Linked DNA regions of Homo sapiens. The main gene of each other region encodes a partner of the protein of the gene in region 2 in a complex. Each region holds a gene or a part of one and is shown on either strand. Other genes may lie near its edges. The genes, in order: APLF and XRCC1.

What was found.
Region 1: the proteins of XRCC1 (region 2) and APLF are in contact, whole or in part, in a crystal structure (PDB 5W7X), measured with the Homo sapiens proteins. Residues at the interface, in NP_006288.2 of Homo sapiens: Pro514, Tyr515, Ala516, Gly517, Ser518, Thr519, Asp520; in NP_775816.1 of Homo sapiens: Arg27, Gly28, Pro29, Gly32, Ile33, Thr34, Lys36, Arg37, Val38, Ser39, Arg40, Arg41, His58, Asn60.

What each region holds. Positions count from the first base shown.
Region 1 is NC_000002.12:68,575,524-68,580,860, reverse strand, and holds the end of APLF (aprataxin and PNK-like factor), read right to left. Parts: intron 3,042-5,337; coding exon 2,839-3,041; 3' UTR 699-2,838; downstream 1-698. UniProt on the Homo sapiens protein: Histone chaperone involved in single-strand and double-strand DNA break repair.
Region 2 is NC_000019.10:43,551,523-43,558,781, forward strand, and holds part of XRCC1 (DNA repair protein XRCC1), read right to left. Parts: intron 3,283-7,259; coding exon 3,124-3,282; intron 2,162-3,123; coding exon 2,087-2,161; intron 1,991-2,086; coding exon 1,879-1,990; intron 1,570-1,878; coding exon 1,460-1,569; intron 1,387-1,459; coding exon 1,275-1,386; intron 754-1,274; coding exon 495-753; intron 166-494; coding exon 49-165; intron 1-48. UniProt on the Homo sapiens protein: Scaffold protein involved in DNA single-strand break repair by mediating the assembly of DNA break repair protein complexes. Negatively regulates ADP-ribosyltransferase activity of PARP1 during base-excision repair in order to prevent excessive PARP1 activity.

The DNA.
Region 1 (5,337 bases), on a different chromosome or scaffold from region 2:
GATTGGCAGGAAAAGATCCCCCTCCCCCACATGCACACACCATTATGGACTCCTGGCCAACAAAGAGACTGAATGGGAATGAGGTGGTCTCACAGAGCAGGGCTGGATGCAGCGTGCTGGTGGACAGTTTCCCCCTCAGTGAGGTGTGCTGGTGACACTGAACAATTAGTTGTAAGAAACTACCCATTTACTCTCAGCTTTACATCAACATTCTGGAGTAATTATGCTCACAATCTATCTGCTTTCATTACAATGAATGTTTAGGATCCTCTAGTTCTAGAAACTCAGTATCAATAGGGCCATCCTCAACCAGGGGAAAACACCAAAGTCAGTGTTCAAGTGTCCCCCAAAACTCTTCAGGTCTCCAGTTTCCCAGGGTCCTAGAAAACCCATCCCCCCTCAAAAGTTTAGCCAGAAAATATTTGCTTTTAAAATTAGGCACATAGGTGAGAAATGTATATATGATAATTTTTACCATGACAGAGGAGGCTGGGATATAGTTTCAGTTCCAGGAACACCATGACAGGGAGAATTGGCTCTTATCCACTGTATAGAACAGCAATTAATTTAAAAAATCAAGCTTTGTTAATGGTGCTCTTGAGACCACTGACAGCCTAATGTTACCGGTTTTCCCTCTGTTTTGGAAAACACAGATCTAAACACAGTCCAATTACACTTTCATTTTCATTACACTTCAGTCAATTAAGCTATACATTTATTTATACAATAGTTATACTCAAAAGTGTCTTCAGGATGATTATGAAAGTTGCATTAAAACTGTATCGTTAAAAGCAGCTACCATGAACTATTACATTACTACGAAGAATATCCTTTGATATTAAATATTTTTTTCCTTCTAAAAGACTGGTATTACCCTTTGCATTACTTTTTTGTGACAGATTTATTGAAATATATAGTTCACGTGCAATGAAATCTACCCTTTGAAAGTGTACAATGCATTGTTTGTAATATATTTACAGAGTTGTGCAACCATCACTGCCATCTAATCTTAGAACATTTTTATCACTCAAAAGGAAATCCTATACTCATTAGCAGTCACTCCCCATTCTTCCTCCCCAAGTCCCTGGCAACCACAAATTTGCTTTCTGTCTTTATGGATTTGCCTGTTTTGGAAATTTCATATAAATGAGTTCATACAGTATGTGGCCTTTTGTGTCTGGCTTCTTTTACTTGCCTTCAAGGTTCATCTATCTTGTAGCATGTATCAGTACTTTATTCCTTTTTATGACCAAATAATATTCCATTGCACAGATATACCACGTTTTGCTTATCCATTCACCCAGTTGATAGTTGATAGACTTTGGGTGTTTATACTTTTTGGCTGTTAAGAATAATGCTTCTATTGACATTGTGTACAGTTTTTATGTGGAAATGTTTTCAATTCCTCTGGGTATATACCTAGGAGTAGATTATGTAACACTTCAAGGATTAAGTTAGTGGCAGGGATGAGAATAAGTTAAATATTACATTCGTAGATTTGTTATACTACCAAGGCTAAAGGGACATTATAAGGGGAAAAATAGTTCCCAAATAACAATAAGAGATAAAAATCAGAATAATAGGTTATAGTCTAGAGAAATGTTTATCTTATTCTTGTTCCAGTTTAAGTAAATATTAAATATTGTATAATTACTGGGAGATATATTTTAAAGCAATGAGAAAATATTATTATAAATATGTTTTGATCTTTTAAGATATAAATTTTTAGGTTCCTTTAGAGTAGAAAATAATAGCATTTAACAAAGATTCTTTTGGCTTAGTGATTTATGATTTCAATAAATATCTCCTGCTCTGTGTACACAACCCAACTGTTATTAAAGATTCTAAACTACATTTTAACAATTCAAAGTCACGTAATATGAAGAGCATTATAGGGCTTAAAGTAGTTTTAGAACAGAAATACAGAAAGATACTTTGTAAAACTGGAGAATAAGTGGTTTCTTCTTGATATGGGAGGCCAGAATCTTGAACTTTCAACTGGCAAACAACTTGCTACTTTCATCTGAGGTCAAAAAAACTAAGGCAAAACTAATGCCATTTGAGAAAGTTATGTCGTTTCTCTATTCTTAATATAAAGACAGCACACTGAGAGTTAAAATAATCAGCTAGGACTTTAGTTTGAAAAAAAAGGTCAAGTTTTTTGAGTTTTTTTACTTTTAAATTCAAACATACAGTAAATTGCAGATGTGGAACACAAAATAACATTCCCTACATGGTGAACATTTCTCTTCTACAGCCTAGTTGAATCTATTTTCAGTACCCATTTGGAACCAATCTTCCCAAGTTTTGAAGGATAAAAGTAGTAAGTGAAATTGCAAAGCTCACATCTAAGGTACTAGAAAAAAAACGCCATTATGTAATGGCTGCATTTTTTAAAGCCTGGTTCTGCTTACAGAATTACTTCAGTAACAATGAAAAGAGGCATGTTTTCATGTACTTTGCCTGGTTATACTTGCAGAGTACTCCATAATCTTTGGAAAAAAATTTAAAAAGACCAAAGTTTTATGCAACCTATGGCTTTTACTTTTTATTACCAATATACAAAGTACATAAAAAATATCCATTTTTACTCTACCTTCTCTGTCTTCCTATTTCCAGATGCTTTAAGTAGGAAAGAAAAGGCAAGGCAACAAAAAATTCCATCTATTATACTGAAGGCTGACGTTTCAATGTCTCATTTGTAAAGAGTCAGTAGTAAAAGTCATTAACTATCAAAAGAAGGAAAATAACTGTCACTTAAGTACCTCCTTAGTTCATAAATGTTTTCCCACAAAGAAAAAGTAAATGTAAGGCAGATATGACTACAGAAGTTAGTTACTATTTTCTTTTCATAAACCTTTTTGCTTCTTTCAAAAGCTCTTCCACATCTTCCTTCTCTTCATCTTCCTTTCCTGGTTCCCAGTCAGAATCTTCATCTGTTGGCTCATAGTCTTCTTCCTCATCATCTAGAAAGCTGTCGTTCAGGTCATACTCATTGGGTTGCCCAACATTATCATTATCTTCATCTAAAACATTTCTCACTGCAAAACAGAAGATTGGTACACAACACATCAATCACCACTCAACCTGGGATGACAGACATCTACCTATAAAATGTCTTTCTGCATCCAGAGGATTAATTTTATTAATGCATAGCTTACCACTACAAATTTCTGGAAACGGCACTAAAATGATGCTTTGTTATTTATTATTCTAACTTTTCCTACCATGAGGCTCCTGAAACTAAAATGACCCATGAGATTAATAATAATGGTTCCTTAATCTCATAATCATATTCACAACATCCCATCTTCCCATGTGGTAGAATGTATTTTTGTCCCAATTATTCACTGCCCCTTCCTGTGATATGATTATACTTCCTCACTTCTCAGTGATTGCTCAAAGAAATGTGAGTGGAAATAGTGTGTGTCACTTCCAAAAGGATGCTTTAAGACTCTTTCTCTGGTTCTGCTATTGCCATTTCCCCTCTGCCACAAGAACAGCATGTCCCAGATAGAGGCTGATCCCTCAGCCTGGATTCCAAGATGAGAATACACATGGCACAGGGCCACAGCCAATTCACAGCTGCAATAAGGAGAAATACACTTAAATAAGTGTATTTATTGTTATAAGGCACTGAAATTTAGAAATGTTTGTTATCACAGCAAACCTAGCAAAAGCTTGCTGACACATCAGGGCGTGAGCTTAGATACTTTGGAAAGTTTAGTTTTATAGGTCTAAGATATTCTTACAGTTCATGTTTCAGTAAGACTAGGAATGCCATAATAATAGACATTAGAATTTACAGATTTCTAAGTAATATTATAATACTAGAATTCTTCTGTCTCCAAATTCATTTCTTCCCCGATCTTACTCTTTCCACAGCGAGCTACAGAGTTGCTTTAAAATAAAGCAGTGAAAGACTCTAGGACAGTGTGGAACATTTAAGAAACAATTAGGAAGATTTCATCTAGAAATCTGAATGGCAGAGGACAGTCCCTAATGAACAGCAAATGTATAGGTTAAAAACATTAATGTCTGTACTTTAGTATACACTTTGGTTAACATCTTTCTAAAATGTTCACATGCAACATATAGTTATAATTTTAAAAATAAAGTCAATGAATTGGGAAAAATGAGAAAAATGACAAAGGAAGTAATGTATCTGTCCTTTTAACCCTTATAGCCCAATATATTTATATTTTTCTTAATATCAGTACGCATTCCAGAAAGGATTTGAGACAGCTTATAATAATAAAATGCTAATAAAGGTAGAAACCAAAAACATAAAAAGCAGAATACACATATGATAACCTCAATTTTTAACACAATTATTAAAAATAGAGCATCAAATTTATCCCCAAGATTCTTGGTAGCCAAGGCTAAAAAGGCAATATAATAACTTGCCCAATTATCATTATAGTAGGAAGCTCACCAGTTCCTTAAGGAAAATCTTGCATTACATATATCTGTATATACAGCTCCTGTAAACATCTTGAGGGCATGTTTTATGTCTAATCTCAGTTACCCATATTTTTAAAATAATAAAATGCATTTTTTAAAAATTGGAAGGCAGTTTGCAGTCGGGAAAGGGAATGAGAAGGAAAGAACATCAATATCTCTATTTTTGTCTATTTTCCTCTTGGAAATACCTTATACACATAACTTTTTTTTCTAAGATGTGAATGCACATTATCACATAACATGTCCTAATGATATCTCAATAAACAGTTTCCTTTCAGATTCAGAAATCACTTACCAGCTTTACAAGAAAAACAGATATAAAGGTGAAACAACTCCAGGTTCTCTGCTCACTTCATTGGCTGCTCCTTCTCAGTTTTCTTTGCTGGATTTTCCTCATCATCCTAATCTCTAAATTTTAGAGCTGGAACCTCTTCTCTAACTCACTCCTTAGATGATTCCATCCAGTCTTATGTCCTAAATTCCCAAATTCACATCTTAAGCCCTGACCTACTGCCCTGAATTCCAGACTCATTTATCTGGATACTTAAGCATTATCTGTACTTGGATGACTTACAGGCACCTGGAATATAACATTTCCAGAACATAACTCTTTAGTTGCTTTACCCAGATCTGGTCATTCTATTTATCAGTCTTGAATATATGACTTCTCTAATCATCCAACCATCTAGTTGTTTTAGCAAGAAATCTTGTAGTCATCCTTTAATATCCCTCACCGAGAACCCAACATCTAATACCTCAAGAGATCCTGTTAGCTTTACCTGCAAAGTAAATCCACCACTTCTGATCACATCCACTCTAATGCCCTGGCCCCAATACTATCATTTTCTTCCTGAATACAATATCCTCCTAACT
Region 2 (7,259 bases):
CATTGCCCAGCACAGGATAAGGAGCAGGGTTGGCGTGTGAGGCCTTACCTCTGGGAGGGCAGCCGCCGACGCATGCGGTGACAGTCCAGCACCCACTCCTTACGCACGATGCGGCCTCCCAGGCCTAGGACCTGGCTGTACTTGGGGGTGTTGGCAAAGGCACAGCTGGTGGGGGGCAGAAGTGAAGATGCCAGTTAGGTGTGATCTGAGGGGCAAAGGGGAACGAGACAGGGGAGACAGACAGAGAGAGAGAGAGACAGACAGACAGACAGATCATGAGATTGAGGTGGGAGAAACAAAAAGAGGTTGGAGACCAAGGGAGAGATGCAAAAATCAGAGAGAAGACAAAGGCTACAGAATGCAGTGAGAAAGAAAGCAAGTGAGAGAGAGAGAAAGCATGCAGCATAGTGGACACAGAGAAAGCACAAGGTGGAGGAGACACAGGGAGCTGGGGGAGAAACTGCAGCGGCGCAGGGAGGGGGGCGCAAGCCTACATGAGGTGCGTGCTGTCCCGGGTCCAGTCTGGCCGATACTTGGCCCCAAGCTCTAGGGCCTTATCTCGCAGCTCGGAGCGGAAGGGGTTCTGGAAGCCACTCAGCACCACTACCACACCCTGAAGGATCTTCCCCAGCTCCTCTGGGCCAGCTCGGGGTCGTCTGGGCTCGGTGCCTTCTCCTCGGGGTTTGCCTGTCACTGCCCCCTGTGCTCGGGCAGGGACTGGGGCTGTGGCTGGGGTACGAGTTGGAGCTGGCACTGGAGAAGACAAAGAGTAGATTAGGTTAGCACCACTGGGGGTCAACCCCCAGCCCCTCCTCCCTCAGACCCAGCAGTCCAGGCCCCAGACCCTCCTCCCTCAGACCCAGCAATCCAGGCCCCAGCCCCTCCCCCCTCAGACCCAGGGGTCCAGGCCCCCAGCCCCTCCTCCCTCAGACCCAGGAGTCCAGGCCCCCAGCCCCTCCTCCCTCAGGCCCAGGAGTCCAGGCCCCCAGCCCCTCCTCCCTCAGACCCAGGGATCCAGGCCCCCAACCCCTCCTCTCTCAGACCCAGGGGTCCAGGCTCCCAGCCCCTCCTCCCTCAGACCCAGGGGTTTAGGCCCTCAGCCCCTCCTCCCTCGGATTCAGGAATCCAGGCCCCCAGCCCCTCCTCCCTCAGACCCAGGGGTCCAGGCCCCCAGCCCTTCCTCCCTCAGATTCAGGACAGCAGGCTCCAGCCCCGCTTCCCCTAGGACACAGGAGCACAGGCCCCTGTGGAAACAAGGGATCTAGTTAGCTCACATTTAGGTCTCTTGGGAACAGATGGCGACAGCTGGGCTGGTGGTTTGCTGGGGGTCTTCTTTTCTTCTTGGTTCAAATCCAACTTCCTCTTCCCTTTGGGAGACTCCTGGGGCTGAGGGGATGGGGATGGATTGAGGCCTCCAGCTTCTCTCCTCCTCCACCCCACCAAAGTCTGATGATTTCACCTTGGAGGTGCTGCCTATGGCCCTGGAGACTGGAGAGGCTGAGGAGGCAGCACTAGAAGCCTGGAGGGTAGCAGCTGCATAGCTAGGTCCTGCTGGGTCGCTGGCTGTGACTATGAAGGGAGAAAGTGGATCCAGGATGAGAGGGCTGAGCCCCAAGACCCTTTCACTCCTATCTATGGGACACAGAATATTGTTGCCAAAACCCACCAGTGATCCAGGAGTCCCAGCCTCCAGACCTCTCAACCCTCAGGACACAAGAGGCCAGGCCCACCTTCCTCCACCCTGAGACCCAGGAGTCCAGGACTCCACTACCCTCCTCCCTCAGACCCAGGAATCTGAGCCCCAGCCCCCTCTACCCTCAGACCCACGAGTCTAGGTCTCAACCCTACTCACTCAGGACCCACGTTGTCCGAGCTCACCTGGGGATGTCTTGTTGATCCGGCTGAAGAAGAGAGCCCCCGGCCTCAGAGAGTTGGCGCTCTCATCCTCCTCCTTCACACGGAACTGGCCAAGCTTGGTCACTGTCACCTTCTAAGGTCCCGCAAGGTCAGTATTATAGGTGGGCTGCTGGCAGGTGGGGGTGGAGAGGCAGGGAGAAGGCCATGGGGAGTGACAGGTACAGCTTACCTGGGACGGGGCCTCTGCCTCATCTTTGTCTGGGGGGCTATGAAACCGTACAAAACTCAAGCCAAAGGGGGAGTCCTGGGAAAGGAGGGGTGGGAGTCAGGGAGTCTGGCCCAAGGACAGAGGCCAGGGCCCAAGACCCTTTTCACTCAGGGAAACCTCTTCCTGGCTCCTTCCCTCTCATGAACACCCATGTTGAAGGAGGGGCCCTGGCGATGGTGATGACAATTATAGGATTAAGCTGTTATGACTGAGCCCTAACTCTGAGTCTGGCTCCAAGCCCTTTTCACGCATTAGCTCTTTGGGCAATTGGCAGAGTCTACTAGGTGTCCCAGCGAATTCACTGCCCTATGCACAAACTCCTGCCTGTGGAATGGGAGGGAGTGCTGCGTGCCACTTCCAGAACACAGAAGTGTTCCAGGCTCTCTCCTCTGCCAGCTGGATGCAGAGCCAGAAAATAGGAGAAGTCTGGGTCCCTGCACGACCTCATAAGGAGAAGCCAGCTGACAGGCTAAACACTCCCCAGGACAGTTACCTGGGCAAGAAGCACACCTTTAGTGTGTGGCATCATCACATACTCCAGTCTCACTGTTACCACAGCTTTTAGCATCCCTTAACCTACAGCAACCCTGTAAGGATCAGGCAATGGAGGCCCAGAGAGCGTAAGTCACTTGCCCAAGATCACACAGCTAAAAAGTGGTATAGCCAGGACGTGAACTCAGTAATCAGACGCCAGATCTCCTGATGTTAACTACTAGGCCCACTCTACTAGGCCACCTCTCTAACAAGTCAGTTCCCCTCCTCCGATTCCCCTCTGAGATGCTGCAGTTCACCCTTCCTAGATTCCTCCGGGAGATGAAACTTCTCATTACAGGAAAGATCCCAAACCCATTTCAGGGAACGCAGGGACCCAGCCTCCCCATAATCCCATGGGACACCAGCTGTCTACTCCTCCCAGCCCTATGGGACTCAATATTGGCCCTTATTTCCCTCCTTGCCCAGGACCAAGGACTCTGCACCCTGGCTCCCACCCTAGGTACCTTGCTGTAGGGCTGGCTGCAAACAATTTTGACCCGGTCCCAGCGCTTCTCGGCGGCTGCCCGGACCAGCTTGTCAGGCCCAAACATGCGAACGCGGTTGGGGTTTGAGCCACTGCGGCTCTCGGAAGGGGACATGAAAGATGAGGTGACCAGAAGGACCTGGGTGGGAGAAGCCACAGTGCATGAGAACCAGGGCAGGTTGGCTTAGATGAGAGCTTCTAGGGGCTGGGGAAGAGGGCACAGGGCCCACACAGGGGACTGGGAGTCACTAGAATGTAGCTTGGGCCTAGATGTCTCCAGACCCTTTGTTTCTAGGCCTTGAGTCAGTCCTGCCCTGACACAGGCCCCAGAGGGATCTCTTTATCCTCCAGATGTGAGCGACCCTTATCTAAATTCTCCCATGGAGTCTTCCATATCTGGCAATACAGCGGGCTACATGTCCTAAGGAACTTTCCCGGCAGAGAATATTCAGTAAACTGGCACAATATTCAAACACCTTTTGGAAATGCACAGGTGAGTCAGCGGAAAGGCAAGGGGAATTACTAGAGGCTGGAAATGAGAAAACAGAATCCAGAGAGTCAGGCGAGCTGCACTAAGTATTAAGTGATTGTTTCTCAGCTCAAACCTACCCTCTACAACTCATCTCTGTGATCTGGGCCCGCACTTGGCAAACCACCTTTCTGCTTCCCTAGCTGATCGTGACCAGGCTCTGCCAATAGGGGGGGCAAGAGAGAGAGTTTGCAAGGCTGCAGGAGGGAGGAAGGACCAGCTTCTCGTGCATTGCAGATCCTGTGAGCATCACCCCCAGTTAAGCTTCTGCTGCTGCAGTGGTTCCTGCCTGCAGCAGCAGATGAATCCAGTTTGCAGTGTCCCAATACCTCCAGAAACAGCCTCATTCAGCCCCTCTCAGCAGCCGGTGGGGGAGGAAGCCCTCCTCAAACGATCTGAATTTCAGCTCCTGGAGCCCCACCTCCCAGTTTCCAAACATCTACGTTTCAATAATTCCTGCTCCTTTCTTTTGTTCCCCCAACCCTGGGAGTGGTAGCTACTCCCTGCGGTTGCTTCTCCCTCATATCTTAGTCTTCTAGTAACACCTAGTTACTGGTTCTTTCTATCAAATTATCTGTTAAAATAACTGGTGTGGTTTTAATCTCCGGGCAAGGACCCTGACTGACCCGGCAGCACTCATGTTGGTAGTTTGTCATGGTGCTGATCCCAGATAGCAAATAACTTGATTTTATTTATTATTATTATTTTTTTAAGAGACAGGGTCTTTCTCTGTCACCCAGGCTGGAGCACAGTGGTGCGATCATAGCTCACTGCAGCCTCGACCTCTGGGTCTCAAGTGATTCTCCCACCTTGGCCTCTGAGTAGCTGGGTCTAGAGATGCACGACACCACACCTGGCTAATTTTTTATTTTTTGTAGAGGCATGGTCTTGCTATGTTGCCCAGGCTGGTCCTGAACTCCTGGCCTCAAATGATCCTCTCACCTCAGCCTCCCAAAGCTATAGAAGTACAAGTGTAAGCCACCACACCCAGCTAGAACTTGATCTTTAAGGGTTATGCACGTGGTGGTGAAAGAGAACAAGAGAGAAAACCTAGGCTCCAAGCAAGGGAGAGTGGCATCTCAGAGATCCTCACCACACTGCATAGAACTGAGGACTCCCCAAAGGCAACGCCCACACTAGTTACATGAAGGGGAAATAAGCCTGTGGAAAGAGTCCCTGGGAGGCCTGTCTGTCTTGGCCTTAGCTTGGGGGGACACCAAAGAAGAGGTGAAAATTCTTCTCGGGAGAACTCCTCACAAGTCTGTTCTCTCAAGGAATTGAGAGTAGCAATTCATGTTAGCAATCTGCATTGAAAAACCCAAGCTGAGGCCAGGCGCGGTGGCTCACGCCTGTAATCCCAGCACTTTGGGAGGCCAAGGCAGGCGGATCATTTGAGGTTAGGAGTTCAATACCAGCCTGGCCAACATGGTAAAACCCCATCTCTACTAAAAATACAAAATTTAAGCCAGGCATGGTGGCAGACGCCTGTTGTCCCAGCTACTCGGGAGGCTGAGGCACGAGAATTGCTTGAACCCAGGAGGCGGAGGTTGCAGTGAGCTGAGATCGCACCATTGCACTTAAGCCTGGTGGACAAGAGGCCAGGAGTTCAAGACCAGCCTAGCCAACATGGTGAAACACCGTCTTTACTAAAAATACAAAAATTAGCTGGACATGGTGGTAGGCACCTATAATCCCAGCTACTCGAGAGGCTGAGGCACAAGAATCGCTTGAACCCAGGAGTTGGAGGTGATGGTGAGCCGAGATTGTGCCACTGCATTCCAGCCTGGGTGACGGAGCAAGACTCTGCCAAAAAACAAAAAACGAAACAAAAAGACTGGGCACAGTGGCTCACACCTGTAATCCCAGCACTTTGGGAGGCCAAAGCAGGCAAATCACGAGGTCAGGAGATCGAGACCATCCTGGCCAACATAGTGAAACCCCATCTCTACTAAAAATACAAAAAAATTAGCTGGGCATGGTGGCGCGTGCCTGTAGTCCCAGCTACTCGGGAGGCTGAGGCAGGAGAATCACTTGAACCCAGGAGGCGGAGGTTGCAGTGAGCCAAGATTGCGCCACTGCACTCCAGCCTGGCAATAGAGCGAGACTCCGTCTCAAAAAAAAAAAAAAAAAAAAAAAAGATGAATGCAGCCACTTTTGGTTGGGTATATTTTGTTACTGACTTAGTCTCTTTTCTAACTGACATGCTGTGAAATTATAAAATTGGACAATAAAGCCTTTTGCTGAGAAAAACAGAACATAACTATAGCTCTCTTTGTGCACAGCTGATTATGCAAAGGAAACAAGAAAGACAATTATACAGAAGGGAAGTTTTCTTCCTGACCTTGACTATACTTGTTTATAAAAGGCCTGATTTGGAGCTGACAGGGAAGCTGCATTTATCATCTGGTGACTAACATGGGAAAACCCTGTCCTACTAAATACAAAAAAAATAGCCATGCATGGTGGCACAGGCCTGTAATCCGAGCTACTTGGGAGGCTAAGATGGAGAATCGTTTGTACCTGGGAGGCGGAGGTTGCAGTGAACCGAGATTGCACCACTGCACTCCAGCCTGGGCAACAGGAGCAAAATTCCATCTCAAAAAAAAAAAAAAAAAAAAAAAAAAAGGAAGGAGGGAGGGAAGGAGGGGAGGGAGAATGGAAGGAAGGAAGGCTCCTGTGACTTTGGGTTTGTGCCTTTGATGTTTTTGAAGAGTAGAGGTCAGTGATTTTTGTCAGATATCACTTATTGTACAAAGTATCTGATGTTTCCTTGTGATTAATTTAGGTTGCACACTTTGGCCAGAATACCACAGAAGTGATGTGTAATATACAGTTTATTTTGTATATTGACTTCTCATCTTGTGACCTTCACTTACTAAACCTTGTAGTTTGTCTAGATCTCTTGGGATTTTCTGCATAGACAATCATGCCATCTGTGAAAAAAGATAGTTTTCTTTTTTCTTTTTCTCACCTTGTCACACTGACTAGTGCAAAGTTGGGCATGGTGGTGCAAGCCTGTAGTCCCAGCTACTTGAGGGGCTGTGGAAGGAGGATCACTTGAACCCGGGAGGACAAGGCTGCAGTGAGCTGAGATCGTGCCACTGCACTCCAGCCTGGGTGACAAAGTGAGACCTCGTTTCAAAAAAAAAAGAGTAGGCCAGGTACACACAGCAGCTCACATGTGTAATCCTAGCACTTTGGGAGGCCGCAGCAGGTGGATCACCTGACCTCAGGAGTTCAAGACCAGCCTGGGCAACACAGTGAAACCCTATTTCTACAAAAAATATTTAAAAATTAGCCGGGCATGATGGCTCCCACTAGCTACTTGGGGGGCTGAGGCGGGAGGATCACTTGAGCCCAGGAGGCAGAGGTTGCAGTGAGCTGAGATCATGCCACTGTACTCCAACCTGAGCAACAGAGTGAGACCCCCATCTCAAATAAATAAATAAATAAATAAATAAATACATATATACATAAATAAATAATATGGTTAAAAAAAGAGACAGTTTGGTATTGGCATAAAGAAAACTATACATATCAATGGAACAGAGAAGAGAGTACAGAAATAAACCCATACATATGGTTAA